Homo sapiens: one gene and its partner. The protein of the gene in region 1 purifies or fractionates together with the protein of each later gene. This does not show direct contact. Each region holds a gene or a part of one and is shown in the gene's direction. Other genes may lie near its edges.

Region 1 (3,652 bases):
TGGAGTACACTGGCATGATCTTGGCTCACTGCAGCTCATTCCTGGGCCCAAGCTATTCTCCCACCTCAGCCTCCCAAGTTGCTAGGACTATCTGAAGCTACTATGCCCAGCTTAATCTACTTTTTTTTGTAGAGGCAGAGTCTTCTTGCCTAGGCTGGTCTTAGACTCCTGGCTTCAAGCAATCTTCGCACCTCAGCCTCCCAAACTGTTGGGATTATGGGCTTGAACCACTGAGCCACTGTGCCCAGCCTATTTTTATAGTTTTTTTGAGTCTCTGTTGCCCAGGCTGGAGTGCAGTCTCGGCTTATTGCAACCTCCACCTCCTGGGTTCAAGCAATTCTTCTGCCTCCTTCTCCCAGTAACTGGATAACAGGCGTGCGCCACCATGCCTGACTAATTTTTTGTACTTTTAGTAAAGATGGGGTTTCGCCATGTTGGCCAGGCTGGTCTCCAACTCCTGACCTTAAATGATCCACCCACCTCACTTCCCAAAGTGCTGGGATTACAAGCGTGAGCCACTGCGCCTGGCTTACAGTTTTTAGTTTGTAGATTCATTATATTCTTTTTTTTTTTTTAACTTCATGGTAGGCTGAGGATTGTTGCCATTTTCAAGTGAAGACATGGAGGCTTCTAAGTGACTTGCCCACAATGAATAATGGCAGAGCTGTGACACACATTCAGTGCTGTGTTAAGTGTTCCACCTCTCTAGCATTGCTATTTTATGTTGTTTGGTAAAGAGAATATAATGTTTTGATTAAGAACACCATGGGGTGAGGCAATGGACCAAATTAGTATTTCTGTTGCTTTTCTTGTTTATTATGCTTAAGTCTTCATTTTTAATTAGTTTTTACATTTTTTTTTTACTAAAATGGTTTTTCCTACACATCTTGGTCACCTTAGTGGTTCTCTTTGGAGGGGTGTGGTAGCAGTAATTTTGATGGGATTAAGGTTTGTTATGGGCAACGGCGGTGTTTACACAGATAGACTAGAACTTTGAAGGTAATATCTGGTGACTGTGCTTTTTGGTTTTTATACCTTTGCTACTTTATCATGAGGTCTAATCTATGTATTAAATAATGTTTGCTGTCACTTAATCAAGGAGGAATTGAAAGAAAAGGCCAAGATTGAAGATGAGAAAAAAGATGAAGAAAAAGAAGACCCCAAAGGAATTCCTGAATTTTGGTTAACTGTTTTTAAGAATGTTGACTTGCTCAGTGATATGGTTCAGGTAATTTTATTCATAAATGTACCAGTTTACTTTGAAGGGTAAACCTTTGAAGTTTAAATGGCTGTGATCACTGTTCTCTTCAGTGTTGATCTTTCTAGAATGATTGCTTACTTTTGAAATAGCTAATATCTGTAGAAGAGAAATTACAGCTTTGATTAATGTAATCAAATAAATTAGTTTATTTTAAAAAATGAGATAATGAAATGGTCCCATTGATAATGGCTCATTATCGACTGGTGTTTTCTTATAACCCTGTGCCTTTTGTCTTTACATACTTAGTATGGAAGTATGATGGGAAAGTTAATCTTATAGCTGCAATTATGCAATTCCCTTAACTCTTCCAGGAGAAATTTGCATTTTAAAAGAATACCATAAAGATGTTAAACTCATTCACAATGGTTACATTCTCTGGCAAACCATAACTGTTGTCACCTTTGGGAAACTGCCTCAAGCATTTCTTGAGTGAGCCCCTACCGTCTACATTGTAGTAGTACATGTTGCCCTGTCTTGTCATTGTTGGAAGTTACATGGAGAAAAAGAAATGATCTTCACACAATTACTGCTTATTACAATTCTACTTTAGCAAAGTGGAAAAGGAACGACCAGGAGGAAGGGGACAAGCAGCTGGAAAAGGCAGCAATTACAATCAGGAAACATTTTAAAAGTAGATATGCCTTATTTAGACTTGATTTTGGATTTTTCAACCTATATAATAATTCAGTTGTCTATTTGGACACTTTTTCTCTACCAGTGGCAGTAGAACTACAGTATAAATTAGCTTTAGTATAAGCCATAACCTGGAGAGTAAGTCTTAAGGTTCATAATTGCTATACAAAACTACTTTGAAATATATTATGTCTCAGTCAGCTGGTGTTTGTGTAGTAACAGAACACAGTCCTCGAATGCCATGTTATTCATTTTTATTATTTTTTTAATTTGAAGGAACACGATGAACCTATTCTGAAGCACTTGAAAGATATTAAAGTGAAGTTCTCAGATGCTGGCCAGCCTATGGTAAAAGAACTTTGAAATATTTATAATTTTGTAACATGCTTACAGGTAGATAAATAGAAGCTTTTAAAAAGATAACATTCAAGGGTAAGGTTGGTGCTCTTTGTTATAGTGAATAAATATTTGGATGCTGCTAATTGTGAGGCAGTATTTATTCCTTTTCCTCCTTCTGATCATAAATTGTGTTTGAAACACAGACAATCCTTGTTCCTGGATAAGTGGATAAAAATAATGCCAAGGGAACATGAATAAGTACTTTTTCTGCATTAAAAGGCATGAGCTTGGGAATTACACAAAACTGATGTTAGAGGATGCCCACTCCCTAATGAGGAAAGATCAGCCAACAAGCTGTCCACCAAACCACCAGAATTAATGTCAACTAAGGGCAAAACTGCTAAGAATATAGGCTGTAGATGCTTAAGGTTGGGCTTTTTCTGTGTCAAGTTCACGTTTAGTCTACTATTTAAAAGCCTGATTCCTCCAGTAGTTGGGGAGTAAGGGAGGCAACATGGTCACTTTATTCAGGAATGCCTAGCCTGTTGTGTAAACATGTTAATTATTTAATAGATGTAAATTGAAACTAAGTTCTATTCAGTTCAATTTGTACCTCATTATTATTTTAACGTAATTTTTTTGATTTTAACATAATTTGGGGCTCATCTGACAGTCTGTCCCATTCTTAAATATTTCATGGCTGGGTGCAGTGGCTCACACCTGTAATCCCAGCACTTTGGGAGGCCGAGGTGGGTGGATCACTTGAGGTCCGGAGGTCAATACCAGCCTGTCCAACGTGGTGAAACACTGTCTGTACTAAAAATACAAAAATTAACTGGGTGTGGTGGCACACACCTATAATCCCAGATAATTGGCAGGCTGGCGCACCAGAATCACTTGAATCTGGGAGGCAAAGGTTGCAGTGAGCTGAAATTGTGCCCCTGCACTCCGGCCTGGGCAACAATGCAAGACTCAGTCTCAAAAAGAAGATTGTATTTCAGAGTAGAAAAAAAAATTATCATTTAGAATATTTATAAAAACAGATGAAGCTGTGTTTACTAAAGTACTGAAATATGTGAGGTAGGTATTTAACTGATTTTTATGCTTCCTCTCCCCAGAGTTTTGTCTTAGAATTTCACTTTGAACCCAATGAATATTTTACAAATGAAGTGCTGACAAAGACATACAGGATGAGGTCAGAACCAGATGATTCTGATCCCTTTTCTTTTGATGGACCAGAAATTATGGGTTGTACAGGGTGAGTTTAATTTTACTACCTTAACAAAATGTTTTTTCTGTTTTTGTTATACTTGATTTGTATACTCGGTTATTTTCAGTTACATATGTACATAGTCTGTCTCTGAACATTTTGGTAATATGTTTTCTGAAAAGTGCTTATCAAGTTTCCTGTAATTCTCC
Region 2 (3,652 bases), on another chromosome or scaffold:
TACAGGCACAAGCCACTATGCCTGGCTCCTTTTTTTTGTTTGTTTGTTTTTTTTAAATATGTAGAAGTATCATTAACATTTTGGTCTTCAGAATTGCTAAGAAGTCTGTGAATGACAGCTGGTAGTTCATAGTCAACTTGCCAATTCCTTAAGGTGCAAGTTGGAAAGCCTTGGGATCAGAATGTTCTGTAATACGGAAGTGTCTGAGATCAAGAGAAGCCCAACCTCCAGTTCTCTAGCACAGCCCCAGACAGTCAGATGCAGCATGTCAGCTGAGGGAGGTTGGCATGGAGGGATGGTATCAAGGTGTGTCTGGTACATTCAGATCCTAACTAATTCGAGGCTTTAGGGTCAGTAGTGTTGCGTTCGGCACGATTCTATCTTAGGAGCTGGGAAAGGGAGTGGATAACCAGGTGACTCTTTTTCTTTCTTTTAAAAAATGTGCTGTTAAGTTTTGTATCAGCTAAAACTTTTTGTGGTACAGAAACCTTTTGGTATGCTAGTGCAGCCAGCCTTTGTTAGGGCATGAGCTTATTAACTATTTGTTTCTGGGAAATGTCATAAGAATTGATGACGATTTGGAAAGAAGGAACAAATTCAAGTTCTCTACAGAAATTAATTGCTGTTAAAAATGTGTCACATGCTGGGCATGATGGCTCACACCTGTGACCTCAGCACTTTGGGAGTCCGAGGTGGGAGGATTGCTTGAGCCCAGGAGTTCAAGACTAGCCTGGGCAACATGGCGAAACCCCATCTTTATAAAAAATACAAAAACTAGCCAGGCGTGGTGGCTCATGCCTGTAATTCTAGCTACTTGGGAGGCTGAGGTGGGAGGATAGCTTGAGTCTGGGGAGGTTGAGGCTGCAGTGAGCCGTGATTATGCCGCTGTCCTGCAGCCTGGCCGACAGAGTAAGACCCTCTCTCAAAATCAAAAACAAAAACCATAGTGCCACATAATTGTTTTCAACTTCAGTTTCAATCCTTGTGTTTTCTACAGTAAAATTGTAGGTGCAAAAAGAAGTATGTGTTGTTTTAACCTGTGACGTTTCAGAACTCACAGAGCAAGGCAGCAGCGTTTGCTTTTGCTTTCTCTGCCCGGATAATGGGAACTCTGAAATCGAAAGCAATTAAATGTGATGTTGGCAAACAGTTATAAACTTGTGTCTTCTTGGAGAGTAGGCTATGTAGTCTTTCTGGCAGCAGTAGCAAGGAAATAATGAGGTGAAAGCGCCCAGGAAAGAAGGCCCCATGAACACTGCAAAGACAGTTTGCTTGTTGTAAATGGAGGTTTCTCCTGGCGGGAAGGCTGTGACCCTGCTGAGCTGTGGAGAAACAGCTTGATAACCAGGGCTTTCCTGGGGCACCCTTTCTGGTGCACTTCGGAAGACCCCGGACTGATGATAGGGCTCTCTTGATTTCACCTAAAGCAAGACTGTAACCTCTGGGCAGCCTGATGCCAGGCTTGGAGGCAAACCCTCAGAAAACAGCTCCCCTCAGTGAGGGAATGGGAGCCTGTTTGAATTAACGTGGAGAATTCTCCAAGAACCCGCAGACTGGGAGGCATTCTCACGGCGAGTCAGTGCAGCTCCTCTTATGTTTACCGCAATTAAGGTGAGCATGAGAGCAGCCTGCCTCTCTTCTGTTCTCCCAGCCATGGAAGCAGGCTCCATTAAAAATGTGTTTTTCAGCCGGATGCAGTGGCTCACACCTGTAATCCCAGCACTTGCAGAGGCTGCGGCGGGTGGATCACTTGAGGTCAGGTAGTTCAAGACCAGCCTGGCCAGCATGGTGAAACCTTGTCTGTACTGAAAATACAAAAAATTGGCTGGGCGTGATGGTGCACGCCTGTAATCCCAGCTACTTGGAAGGGTGAGGCAAAAGAATCTCTTGAACCTGGGAGACGGATGCTGCAATGAGCTGAGATCACACCACTGCACTGCAGCCTGGGCGACCGAGGGCAACCCCGCCTCAAAAAAAAAAACAAAAAAACAAAACTTGCTTCTTACTGGTGGAGTAGAAATCAGTGGCCCACAGAGGCTTAGGTGGCAATGGGAGTGAGAAGACCTCTATTTACATGTTCATGATAGGCCTAGGTGATGGATCCTGACTAGGATGGTTAGTGTGGAAAGAAGCAGTTGAGCACCATGTTTTGGCAAAATTCAAAGGCTGGGAGGTTCCCAAAGGCAAGGAGGAGGAGGCTGGTACCACAGGTCCAGGGCAGCAAGTTGAGTGGAAAGTCTGGGAAAGGTTTGTGTGGGAAGCACGGGAGACTCTTACCCCATAGCTACGAAAGTCGGTTTCTTCCCAGCCTTGTGTTCCCTGCTTCATGACCAACAAGCGCTTAAGTACGAAACTCAGAGGAGGGCAGACAGAAATGATGATAGCTGGAGAGAGAATTAAGCCCTTTGGGGAGAGGTTATATTCAACAAGTGGGAGGAGAGGTTCCCCTCAACTTTTGAGGGAGTGGGGGATCATTGGAAAGGCCTGGAATCTAGTGGGAATTTGGTGTTTTGACATGAATGCTCTCTGACTTTGTTTTTGCCCTTTGGCTGTGTACCTAGTGTGTGTCAGTTCCTGGAGCTGTGTCAGAGCCCAGAAGGTGGCTTTGGAGGAGGACCCGGTCAGTATCCACACCTTGCACCCACATATGCAGCAGTCAATGCATTGTGCATCATTGGCACCGAGGAGGCCTATGACATCATTAACAGGTACAGTGAAAGCCAGCAGTGACAGAAACCTAGAGGAGTTCCCCGCCTGCTGACACGCACTGACTGTTGCCTCTCCTACCTCTTTCCCTGTTTCTCAGAGAGAAGCTTCTTCAGTATTTGTACTCCCTGAAGCAACCTGACGGCTCCTTTCTCATGCATGTCGGAGGTGAGGTGGATGTGAGGTGAGTGGGGTTTTGCACAGGCTGCCACATCAGTTGACTCTAGAGCTCATCTGCCATTAGAGATGCCAAGCCTAAGGAACATCATGGGGAAGCTGCTGCTTTGTCCCAGAATGACACATGGGATGACATGTCAGTGACACGTCAGAATCATTCAGATGTGATGCAGATGTCCTCAGGTGTCATGATCACTTGACTTATTTTATGTAAATGTGAAAATATAAGAAACAAATGCTTTTGTTTTAGAAATTAAAAATACATTTGTTTGGTACAAAATGATATACCACAATATAAATAACTGTATGGTGTAATGTATTCCTTCACCTCTCTGAGATAGGAAGGGAGGGGAAAGTCCAGCAGGGCCTCAGTAAATACCTTCTGAGTGAATTTGATGAAATCATGAGAATGTCTAATCCCTGAGGTCCTCCTGAGGCACATGAGAGTTTTTCTGGGAGGTGCAGAGAGCCTTGTGGGCCGGGAGAGTGCAGTGCAATAAAATCGCATTAACTGATTGGTGCCAGTTAGCTCGAAATTATTATTTTCTTCCATAAGTGTCTGATGTACCAAGCAAGTTGCTTCCTCACCTGGCAGATTACTTATGAGGCATACAGGGAATTCATTGAATAAGCCATTTCTCTAAGACAGTGGCTTATTGAGATTTTATGCCATTTTCTTATTATTTAGTTGAGAAATACATTTTGTGAGGTTTCTATAGCAAAGCTGTCTTACTGCCTATGTGTAAATGGGTTTGCTTCTACACAAGTT

The links. Proteins that work in one complex are often made in the same cells at the same time.
Region 2: the proteins of NAP1L1 (region 1) and FNTB purify together in Homo sapiens (affinity purification with mass spectrometry; 3 studies listed by BioGRID). This does not show direct contact.

Annotation. Positions count from the first base shown.
Region 1 is NC_000012.12:76,053,609-76,057,260, reverse strand, and holds part of NAP1L1 (nucleosome assembly protein 1-like 1), read left to right. Parts: intron 1-1,099; coding exon 1,100-1,228; intron 1,229-2,170; coding exon 2,171-2,242; intron 2,243-3,351; coding exon 3,352-3,491; intron 3,492-3,652. UniProt on the Homo sapiens protein: Histone chaperone that plays a role in the nuclear import of H2A-H2B and nucleosome assembly.
Region 2 is NC_000014.9:65,024,892-65,028,543, forward strand, and holds part of FNTB (protein farnesyltransferase subunit beta), read left to right. Parts: intron 1-2,561; coding exon 2,562-2,708; intron 2,709-2,806; coding exon 2,807-2,890; intron 2,891-3,652. Other genes in the region: CHURC1-FNTB protein, read left to right, coding at 2,562-2,708, 2,807-2,890. UniProt on the Homo sapiens protein: Essential subunit of the farnesyltransferase complex. Catalyzes the transfer of a farnesyl moiety from farnesyl diphosphate to a cysteine at the fourth position from the C-terminus of several proteins having the C-terminal sequence Cys-aliphatic-aliphatic-X.